Regions from separate parts of the Homo sapiens genome. Here all the other regions are linked to region 3. The links come from fine-mapping of genetic effects on gene expression. A gene starts in region 3. Each other region holds a variant in brackets. All regions are shown on one strand. Distances are between the middles of the regions.

The links. PIP is the estimated chance that this variant, and not a neighbour inherited with it, causes the effect.
Region 1: its variant is fine-mapped to the expression of AHR in fibroblasts (GTEx, PIP 0.93).
Region 2: its variant is fine-mapped to the expression of AHR in whole blood (TOPMed, PIP above 0.99). The same link has a PIP of 0.9 or more in blood mononuclear cells.
Region 4: its variant is fine-mapped to the expression of AHR in whole blood (TOPMed, PIP 0.99).

Annotation. Positions count from the first base shown.
Region 1 is chr7:17,679,063-17,681,753 of GRCh38, forward strand. No RefSeq gene overlaps it. Among named protein-coding and RNA genes, the nearest start is that of LINC02889, 120 kb to the left of the region's middle. The variant G/T (reference allele first, on the strand shown) is at 1,270.
Region 2 is chr7:17,121,756-17,124,446 of GRCh38, forward strand. All of the region lies in intron 1 of LOC107986772 (a long non-coding RNA gene), which reads left to right. Among named protein-coding and RNA genes, the nearest start is that of AHR, 180 kb to the right of the region's middle. The variant A/G (reference allele first, on the strand shown) is at 1,503.
Region 3 is chr7:17,297,451-17,300,141 of GRCh38, forward strand. It overlaps AHR (aryl hydrocarbon receptor), which reads left to right and starts at 1,202. Exons shown (of 11, transcript NM_001621.5): 1 at 1,202-1,879. The coding sequence starts at 1,815. It overlaps LOC101927609 (a long non-coding RNA gene), which reads right to left and starts at 1,870. Exons shown (of 12, transcript XR_007060234.1): 1 at 1,610-1,870. RefSeq lists silencers at 1,477-1,626, 1,677-1,786, 1,827-1,876.
Region 4 is chr7:17,151,876-17,154,566 of GRCh38, forward strand. The region is part of intron 1 of LOC107986772 (a long non-coding RNA gene); the gene reads left to right. The region is part of intron 7 of LOC101927609 (a long non-coding RNA gene); the gene reads right to left. Among named protein-coding and RNA genes, the nearest start is that of AHR, 150 kb to the right of the region's middle. The variant C/G (reference allele first, on the strand shown) is at 1,056.

The DNA.
Region 1 (2,691 bases), 380 kb after region 3:
AGAGTCAAGAGAAAGATGTCCTGTTAAACACATATATATATATATAGTTTTCTCTCTCTCTCTGTCTCCCTCCCTCTCTTCCCCCAGCAAAATACCTAATGCAAGAAGTCAAGATTGGAGAACCAAAGCATTTTTCTTCTGATCTTTAACCACAATCCCACATTATCCATCATTTCTTTAACTGTAAATTTCTATTATAGCTTCTTATCACAGTTTCTAGCCCATAGATTACTGTATTTTACAAATATATATATTTAGAAGCATATATATATGTAGAGAGAGAGAGAGAAGCAGCCTTACAAAATTAATTCTAATTATTTTCAAAATCAAAAGTCATTTCAGTTCTAGGTCAGAGCTCCCAGGATCGCCTATGAAAAGTTCTGAAGGAAAAACCTGGATAACATTTCTCTTTCCACAAGTCTCGCAAGGACATTCAGACCATCTGATTCATAACTCCCAGGAGATCAGGCTGATCCAGCACTTGTCCTTGTAAAAGCCGAAACCCTTTCCTTGGGATGCAGCAGCCTTATCACATGACCTCGGCTGGCCTAGCAGAGCAGGTGGGTGTGACATAATAAAATGCATTATGAAGGCCACCCTAGGAACTTTGGGAAGGGACTGGACTTGCCTCAAAAAGTATGCACATCCAGTTGGGGCGCAGGAGGGAGGAGGGGCCTGAGAGGGTAAATAAAGCCAGAGCTGCTAGGAGCTGAATTCCCTTTCCAGCAGCATCCTGAAGTCTTTGTTTCAGAATAAACTGGTGACAAGGAGAAAGGAGAGGAGGGGAGGGACAAGCTGGTGTCCTTTGGCCCATTACGTGCCTTTAGGTTTCCAGTGGTTCTCAGGCTTGCTACTCATTGGAATTACCTGGGGAGCTTTGAAAACCCTGGTATCCAGGGACAGGACCCAGACATTAGTATGTTTTTAAGCTTTCCAGGTGATCCCAATGTGCAACCAAATTTAGAACTTTAATACAACTGCCTAGCCTAGGATCACTCCTGGAATGTCCTGGGAGGGCATTCTCCAGACCCGGTTATCACGGACCCCTGGAGAGGGTCAATGGTCATCACAGAGTGCAGGGAAATTCCCTGACCTTGTCTCGTTAAGCAGTGCAAGCAGCAGCAGTTTCACAGGGCACATGACCCCCATGGCAGCCAAAAAGGGAATTAGCCACTTCAGCGGAGACGTTGCTTAAGGCAAAGGAATTTCCCCTTGTGCTCCTCATTTGCCCAAACAGAACACACGGTTTACTCATCCATTCTGAAGAAA[G/T]ATTTTGAGTTCTCAAGGATGTAGTCATTGTTCTATAAAGCCTTACAATTTAAAGTGTGAGCCCAAAACAGGAGTTTTGTCATCTTTGGGAAGCTTGGTGTGAATTCAGAATCTCTGGTTCTACCCTAGACCTGCCCAAAACTGTGTAAATACTGCTGGACTGGATGGAACACAGGATGTATTAGAATATTTTTCCTGTATTTAAATGTACACAAGAAAGGAAGACATGCTCATGGATTGACACATCTTGAGAAAGACTTGGGAGAAAAAGACAAAACAAATGTGTCAAAAAGAGAGAATGTAATACACAACCTTGCTTCATTTGAAACTGATTTTTGTTGTTTGTTTTTGTTTCGTTTTGTTTTTTACTTACCACCAGGAAATAGCTAAATTGAGTAAGAACATCTTAAAACTTAAGGGAGAAAAACTGAGTGATCAACCAAAACCTCAAGAGGAAATAATTAAGAATTTCTGGGGGGAAAATAGTGATAGTCTGTGAATGAGGACCCTACCGTATTAGCGCAATAATTAATGAGCCTAAAAGACACTGGTTACCATATGACTTTCCCTAAGCCTCAATTTCTTTAGGTGTAAAACAATACATTTAAATGAATAATCATTGTGGTCTCTTCTTGCTCAAAATTTTACCATTTGAAGATCCTTGACATTGAATCAAATATCCAAACCCAAATGAAAATAATTGTGCACAGTTTTAAGGATTATTTTACCACTAGGTGGCAATGTTGATTAAAAAATGTGAGAAACCAATGTAAACATCATTTTATTGTATTTTGTGGCTGACCTAAATCTGTTTTCCAAGGTTCGGGACATCAAAAAATTGAAGAATTGCACTACTATGCACTCGAGACCAAGAACTGAAACGTAGATTTGGAAAATATTCAGTAAAGGGACAACTGGAAAGGAAAGAAAAGCAGCTGCCTGAGGTTGACAGAGACAGTGAAACGCAGCAGGCCAAGCATAGAAGCTCACGGGATGAATGACCAGGGAGGAAATTCAGTAAACCTGGGTAGCCAAAGGATTCCAGATGCTGGTAATGTCCCCAAGGAGATTGCTGGCCCTTCATCCATGCTTGGTACCTTGAGAGGGCCCTAGGCTAAACACATGCCATGAGCTCTGATTGCTGGCAAGCAAATCTCATCACAATTTTTCTAATTTGTTTTATATCTGATTCCTAGCTACTATCTTCAATGTCTGGCTATTCCTATGGATTTCTGATTTTGCTGTGCTCTAGGACATAGCACTTCGGCTGTCCCTAGGAATTCATGCTTCAACTGCACCGCCTTACCTTGCTTCTACCTCCTGGACCTCACACAAACGACCCTAACTCAGGCAATGTTTGCACACCCCCTCCAGATTCCATGTCTGCTAAAGCATCGCATCTTGAAACTCCACAGAACCACT
Region 2 (2,691 bases), 180 kb before region 3:
TCACTTTCCCTGCCCTCTTTTGACTCATTGTATCTCCTGGCATGTTATTAAGAAATCTCTATGTTTAAATAGAATGGTTTGGCAAAAATTTACTGAACATAAATAGATTGCAGTTGGTTAATTTGCTACAGTTGTTAAAATAATACCTGAGTTACAAAATAATTTGCCTGCATAATGTAAGAAGTGAGTGATCATGTAGGTTGCAAGACCCTAGAAAGCCAAACCTTTCAAATTCTATTTTTTAAATGAAGTTGGTCAGAAGTATGCTTTCAATAAAAGTGTTCATTTTGGAAAGTCTGGTAACTAATGCTAAGAGTTATATAAATATATAGTAAAATATGTTTCCTCACTGGAATCTTCCAAAATAAATAAATCTAAGAAATACCTTTGTTTATACTGTTCTTGGTGAGCTGTACTGAAATAAAAAGAAAGATGGAATATGAGATATTTATGTAACAAAATAAGACTTATGGAATATTATTACTGTCAAGATAATGAATATTTCAATATAAAAAGTCTCTGTATGGTATGTGTGATATGGCATTTAATATTTATCTAAACACATCTATTTTTTAGAAAATACATAAAACTCCATAGACAGTGAAATTTGCTGCTTTCAACCAATGGCTAAAATTTGCATCTGTCTTATGTTGGTGAATTAATCTACTCCGAATTTTCTCATATGAAAAAAATTAAATCATAATATATATATGATAATTTATATGATGAAAGAGAATTGATAAACAGCTTCAGAGAAAGATGTATGATATCCCAAAATCAGATAGAGCTTACACTGTTGGCCAGGAATTAGCAGTTGTTTGGAATATTTCTTCCCTGTAAGCACCTCACGACATCAAATTGTAGACTGGCTTTTCTATTACAGTCAGAGAAGACCCTTCATGCGGCATTTCTATAGAGAGAAATTTCACTGTGGTGGCAAACTCATCTATTTATTTAACACTGGTATTTCAGCCATCTGACAAATGGCCTTTTATCCAAAAACAAAGACAATGAAACACCCTTTTTCATGACCACTATTAATAATTGTAGAATTTTGGTGTTTAAATGCAGTATTAAAAAATATGTACATAACAACAACTAAATATTTACTGAACATGAATTATGTGTCAGGCATTATGTTCTGTATGAATTATTTTATGTAATTCTCAAAACCCTCCCTTAAGTTAGGTACTATTATTAGTTCCATTTTACAAAGCAGAAAGCACCGATAGACTAAGTAACTTATTCAAAGGCATAAATTTAGTCATTAATTATACATGAATTGAACAAAGATTTGTCTGGCACTAAGGTTACAGAAATGGGTAAAACATGAGCCCAGTCCCTGTGGAACTTAGTGGGAGACATAGACATGTAAATGGCAATTTAAAAGGACATGAAAAGAACCACACACTCGAAACAGGAACTGTAATTTGAGAAATAGAAAATAACATTTGAGCTGAAAGTAAGATTTCAGCAGAAAAAAGGGGAAGGTCATTCCCGAC[A/G]TCATATCCTGCATGTTTAGCAATAGAGAGGTATGAAGGGCCACGGAGTTTGGGAAATGCTGATGAGTGTGTATGGCTGGAATGGAATGTGTGAGGAGAAATAAGAGAAACTCTGTGGCTCAATTCACAGAGCCAAAATCATTCGGTTAATCTTTGCTTCAAACACTTTTACCATTTACTTACCTCCTTTTCTTTCCTCCTCTTTATGTGTTTACTATTTCCACAATAGTGCTTACGTAAATATTTTTTAAAGTATAGGATGCTCAAGATGACATATATGAGGAAATACTATATAATAGATTCAGGCACGTAAAGAAGTGAGAAAAGAGATAATATTCCTTTAATTAGACCAAAAGTAGTTTCTAAAATTAAATATCTAAAAAATCCCTGAACATTCCGGATGATATAGGAAAGCAAGAAAAAAGATTGCACACACAATTTAAAATTCTGATTTCTGAGTATCAAGCCTACTTGTGAGGTTGGACAATCCCTAAGGTTATCTAGGGCATTTGAAATATACCACAACTCCTGGGGAAACCCCTATAGAAAAGCAAATTTGTTTTAGAAAACAAAAACAAAAACCAACCAGGACTCTCTCAGTTTATGTTTAAATATGCTAAAGTAATTCATTTCAGAAGACAGTGTGCCAAAAAATTAAGTAAAATAAAATAAAAAAGAAAATTCTAAGATTATCTAGAGCAATATAGAGTAATTCAGGAAAACATACATGCGTTTACTACAAATGAGAAACGCATAAAGCGTAAGTCATGAAGGGTGTTTTCTACCAAAATTATGATTATTATCTATCAAAATAATAATTTCTAGGAAAATAATGATAAAACAAACGTTAATTATTTCTAGCCCTTTCTAGCAAGACAAGAACCTGCTATAGAAGTAAGGAGGCCAAACATGAAAGAAACCATGTATAGTGCAACAGGTGAAGGCCTGCAGGTATATTAAAAGTAAATGCTTGTTTTACTTTTTTACCCTTCAAGAACAGAGCTATTTTGGGAAACGTGTCTGACATAATAGTATGTGGTGGCAAAGACTGATGAAATAATTTGTGCATGAAAATAATAATAAACAGCATGAGTTAGAAAGTTATGAATGCAGATATATGTCATATATCTGTGTCATATATATAAAACACATGACACACAAAATTTATACAGAGACCCCAATGCATATA
Region 3 (2,691 bases):
ATATCTCACCCACTGTCCTTCTTTCCTCCAGCTATGGTAGAGAACTGCTCCTCCAACTTTATGTACATTTGAATCACCTGGGAGTTCCTGTGAACTTCGGGTTCTGATTTAATAAGGACACCCAAAGAGTCTGCATTTCCTGTAACTCTCAAAAGAAGCTGTGGAGTACTCTGAATAGCAAAGCACTGTAAGTGCTGTTTCTGTTAGTATCTAATCTATTAGTCCTAATCTCCCATTTATGCTTTGGCACTCATTCCCTCCTGCTTTCGGTATCTTAATATCTATCATTCCTTCACTCTTCCCTCAGGTTCCCTACATAGTTTATCTCTACCCCCTCTAAGCCGCTCAGTATCGCCCATTAAAGAACTAAACCAAAACTAGAAAACCCTCATTTAACCCTTCACTCCCCCTACATACAATCTGATGTGTCTCTCATCCACAGCTAAACTTGGAAGAAAAATTGCCTGCTTGAGGATGCCATTTTGTTATCTTCAGCTCAATCCTGTACCCACTTCAATGTTATTTGCAGGCCCATTACCCCAACACTGCATTCACGAAAGTCATCAGTGACTACACATTGAGAAAACAAGAATGACATTTTCAGTTCTCAACTAATTTGAATTTCTCAACAGTATTCAATATTGTTAATTACTCCCAATATTTTTCCACATGGTCCTCCATGACACAATACATAATAGTCCCCTTATTATCTATATTCCTGTCTATTGTAAAGACTTCCCCCGCACACCAAAAAAGGTCAAGGAAACTCCTAGCCTTCAAGTCTCAACTCAAATCTGGCCTTCTGAAGCCTTCCCAACTAGGAAAATATACAGTCCCATTGGTTGTCTACCAGTTGTCTACCAGTTAATTGTAATTCTTAGCCACAAGTTAGCTGACCCACCGTCTCTCAAACAGGTGAAGTTAAGCTCAATATTTGGCATATCTTGATATACTTTGTACAGTCTAGCTACAATAAGTTTGCCTATGCACGAAGATGGCTACCGGCGGGGGGGGGCGTCCTTACGTCCTACGTCATCACGTGCCGGGATGAGGGTGGGGCCCTCAAGGAAGACGGAATGGAATCCAGATGGGCGGGGGCAAGCAGGACGGGGCGGGGCTACGCGGGATCTGGGCGGGGCGGGGCCGGTGAGGGGTCGGGGGTGCTCCTGCTATTCAGCCGGTGCGCGCGGCGGCGGGAGGCAGTGGCTGGGGAGTCCCGTCGACGCTCTGTTCCGAGAGCGTGCCCCGGACCGCCAGCTCAGAACAGGGGCAGCCGTGTAGCCGAACGGAAGCTGGGAGCAGCCGGGACTGGTGGCCCGCGCCCGAGCTCCGCAGGCGGGAAGCACCCTGGATTTAGGAAGTCCCGGGAGCAGCGCGGCGGCACCTCCCTCACCCAAGGGGCCGCGGCGACGGTCACGGGGCGCGGCGCCACCGTGAGCGACCCAGGCCAGGATTCTAAATAGACGGCCCAGGCTCCTCCTCCGCCCGGGCCGCCTCACCTGCGGGCATTGCCGCGCCGCCTCCGCCGGTGTAGACGGCACCTGCGCCGCCTTGCTCGCGGGTCTCCGCCCCTCGCCCACCCTCACTGCGCCAGGCCCAGGCAGCTCACCTGTACTGGCGCGGGCTGCGGAAGCCTGCGTGAGCCGAGGCGTTGAGGCGCGGCGCCCACGCCACTGTCCCGAGAGGACGCAGGTGGAGCGGGCGCGGCTTCGCGGAACCCGGCGCCGGCCGCCGCAGTGGTCCCAGCCTACACCGGGTTCCGGGGACCCGGCCGCCAGTGCCCGGGGAGTAGCCGCCGCCGTCGGCTGGGCACCATGAACAGCAGCAGCGCCAACATCACCTACGCCAGTCGCAAGCGGCGGAAGCCGGTGCAGAAAACGTGAGTGTCCCGAGCGCGTCCTCATCGCGGGGGCTGGGCGCTCAGGCACGCGGGTGCGGGAGGCAGCCCCACCCCGCCCCCAAATCCCTGCGATCCTGGGATTAGGTCCATTCCCGGCACTGCCCGTGGAATCGAGGTTTGGAGGCCGGCTGGGAGACAGAGGACTTGGATTCTCCCGTTTTCAATGATTGCATTTTAAAAATTGTCCTCCCACCCATCCTCTTCCCCCGCACCAGTGCATACACACCCTCTCACATTTGCAACTTTGTTCTTTCTGATTTGGTCCTGATTTGTTGACAGCTCTGATCTGCCTTGGGCTAATGGATTAGTTAGTATAAACCTGTCTTGAAATCTCCTTCCACTTTTCATATCCGCATGGGTTAGGTTAGAGGACGGTCTTAATTCTCATTCTTCGTAGAGTTTGGTAAGGCGAGATGTTTTAAAGAGCTAAACACATGCTGACTTTTACGAAGGGGCTGAGTGCCTCTAAAGGTACTTTTTGGTCCCCACCAACTGGCTTTGTGTTGCGCTCATATTTACTTATTTGGCAGCAATTTTGTAGCGCTCATCGTGACCATATCGGTAAAGTGGATAGAAGTGGTAGCAGGTGGGAGTGGATGCAACGGACAGGATACGGTGGAGGATTTGTATTCTTCAGACATCTTTTTCGGAAGCTTGCTTATCACTTTTGGGGTGGCTTTAGGGTCTGTAAAATAAAAGATTTAGAACTGCATTTGAGAGAGGTTTTCATTCTTAACATCTACCTCTAATTCTTTTCCCCTTCAAAGTTTTCTTCTAGTTGAGTGAGTACA
Region 4 (2,691 bases), 150 kb before region 3:
TAAGAAAATAAACAACTCAATTTAAAAATGGGGAAAAGACCTAAACAACCACCTCACAAAAGAAGATAAAAAGGTATATCTCAAATAAATATATGAAAAGTTGTTCAAAATTATTTCATGAAATTTCAAATAAAAACAAGATATGGCTATATATGTATTAGAATGGCTAAAATCCAAAAATCTGATAACACCAGGTAATGCTGGTGAGGATATATAGTAAACAGGGACTGTAATTCCTATTACTGGTAGGAATGCAAAATGGCATAGACAGGCAGTTTTTTTTAATCAAGGTAAACAGTCCCACCATTTGATCCAGCAACCACACTCCTGTGTATCTACTCAAATGAGTTGAAGCCTGGGCACAGTGGTTCATGCCTGTAATCCCAGCACTTTGGGAAGCCTAGGCAGGAGGACTGCTGGAGTCCAAGAGTTTGAGCCCAGCATAGGCAATATGGCAAGATTCAGTCTCTACAAAAAAAATAAAAAAAGTTAGACAGGCTTGCTGTCATGTGTCTGCAGTCCTAGCTACTCAGGAGGCTGAAGTGGGAGGATTGTTAAGGCCAGGGAGGTCGAGGCTGCAGTGAACGGTGATCACGCTGCTGCACTCCAGCCTGGGTGACAGAGCAAGACCCTGTCTCAAAAAAATAAATAAATAAACCAATGAATGAGTTGAAGTTATGTCTACACAAAAATCTGCATGTGAATGTTCATAGCAGCTTCATTTACAATTGCCAAAAACTGGAAGCAGCCAACATGTCATTCAATAGGTGAGCAGATAAATGTGGCCTATCTATACAACGAAATATTGTTATAACTTGAATGTTTGTCCCCTCCCAAACTCATGTTGAAATTTAATTGCCATTGTAACAATATTAAGAGATGGGACTTGTAAGAGGTGATACGGCCATGAGAGCTCTGCCGGCATGCATGGATTCCTTGTAAAAGGATGAGTTCAACCCCCTTGCGTCTCTCTCTTGCCCTCTCTCTGCCCTCTGCTTTCTGCCATGGGATGACTTGGCAACAAGGCCACCAGATGTCAGCCCCTTAATCTAGGA[C/G]TTTCCAGTCTCTGAAATTGTGAGGAAATAAGTTTCAGTTCTCTATAAATTACCCAGTCTGTGGTATTTTGTTACAAGAGCACAAGATGAACTAAGATAAGTATTATCTAGAGATAAAAAGAAATGAGCTATTAAGCTATGAAAGACATGAAGGAAACTTAAATGCATATCGTTAAGTGAAAAAAGCCAGTATAAAAAGGCTATATACTGTATCTTCCCAACTACATGACATTGTAAGAAATGCAAAACTATATATAGAGACAGAGAAAAGATTAGTGTTTTTCAGAAATTCAGGGGGAGGGATGACAGTTATAGCACAGGAGATTTCTTAGGGCATTGGAACTATTCTATGTGATATTATAATGGTAGATACGTGGCATTTCACATTAGTCAAAACACATACAACTGTACAGCACAAAGAATGAACCCTAAAGCAAACTATGGACTTCAAATCCTCACCAGTATTGGTATTACTGAGTCTTTGGATTTTAGCCATAGTTAATAATGTATCAATATTGTTCCACTGATTGTAACATCAGTTGTAACAAATGTGCTACACTAATGCAAGATGTTAATAATAGGAGAAACTGGGGAGGTAAGAAGTGATGGAATATATAGGAGCTCTCTGTACTATCTGTTCAACAAAATCTTAATAAATGAAAAACAGCTGATGGAATGTAATAAGAAAGGTTTCTCAAAAGGCGCCCCCCACCCCCGCCATTTTTTGCCATGTGGACCATGCCATGTTTTGGCATGATTACTTTCAACATCTTTGTAATTTTACCACGTTTACTTTCAACATCTTTGTAATTGTCTATAGTCAGCTCTGAGAGATGACACATAAGATTTTGACCTGATGTCAGACTCCTCAATGATGAATCAACTACAGTGTTTCCCATTTCTTATAAGAGCTAACTTAGCTCTAGAAACCAAATTACCAAAATCAAGAAGAAAAGATAGGATGTCACTACCACCTTAAAGCAATTTTTAAAAATAATTATAAGGGAATACTCTGAGCAATTGAATGCTAACAAATGAGTTAACATAGATGAAATGGACAAGTTCCTAGAAGGACACAAACTACTGAATCTAACTCAAGAAACTGAAAATCTGAATCTACCTATAATAAGAAATAGATTGAATTAGTAATTGAAAACCTGTCCACAAAGAAAAGTACAGGCAAAAATGACTTCACTGGTGAATTTTACCAAACGTTTAAAAGTGAATTAATGCCAATCCCCAACAAACTCTCCAAGAAACAGAAGATGTTTTCCAATTTTGTCTATGAGGCCAATATTACCCTAATACAAAACCTGAAAAGGCATCATGAGAAAAGAAAGTGAAAGTGACAAATCAATATCTCCTAAAATATAGGTGCAAAATCATTAACAAAACACTATCAAAATGAATGTAGCAACACATACACAAAAGGATTACACATCAAGACCAAGTGAGATTTATTCAGGAGTCCATGGTTCGTTTAACACCCCAAAATAAATCAATGTAATAGAATATATTACAAAAATCACATGTCAATTGATCAATAAGAAGCATTTGACAAACAAAATATCCTTTCATGTACAAGTGTGCAACAAACTAAGAGAAAGGACCTTTCTTAATCATAAAATCTATGAAA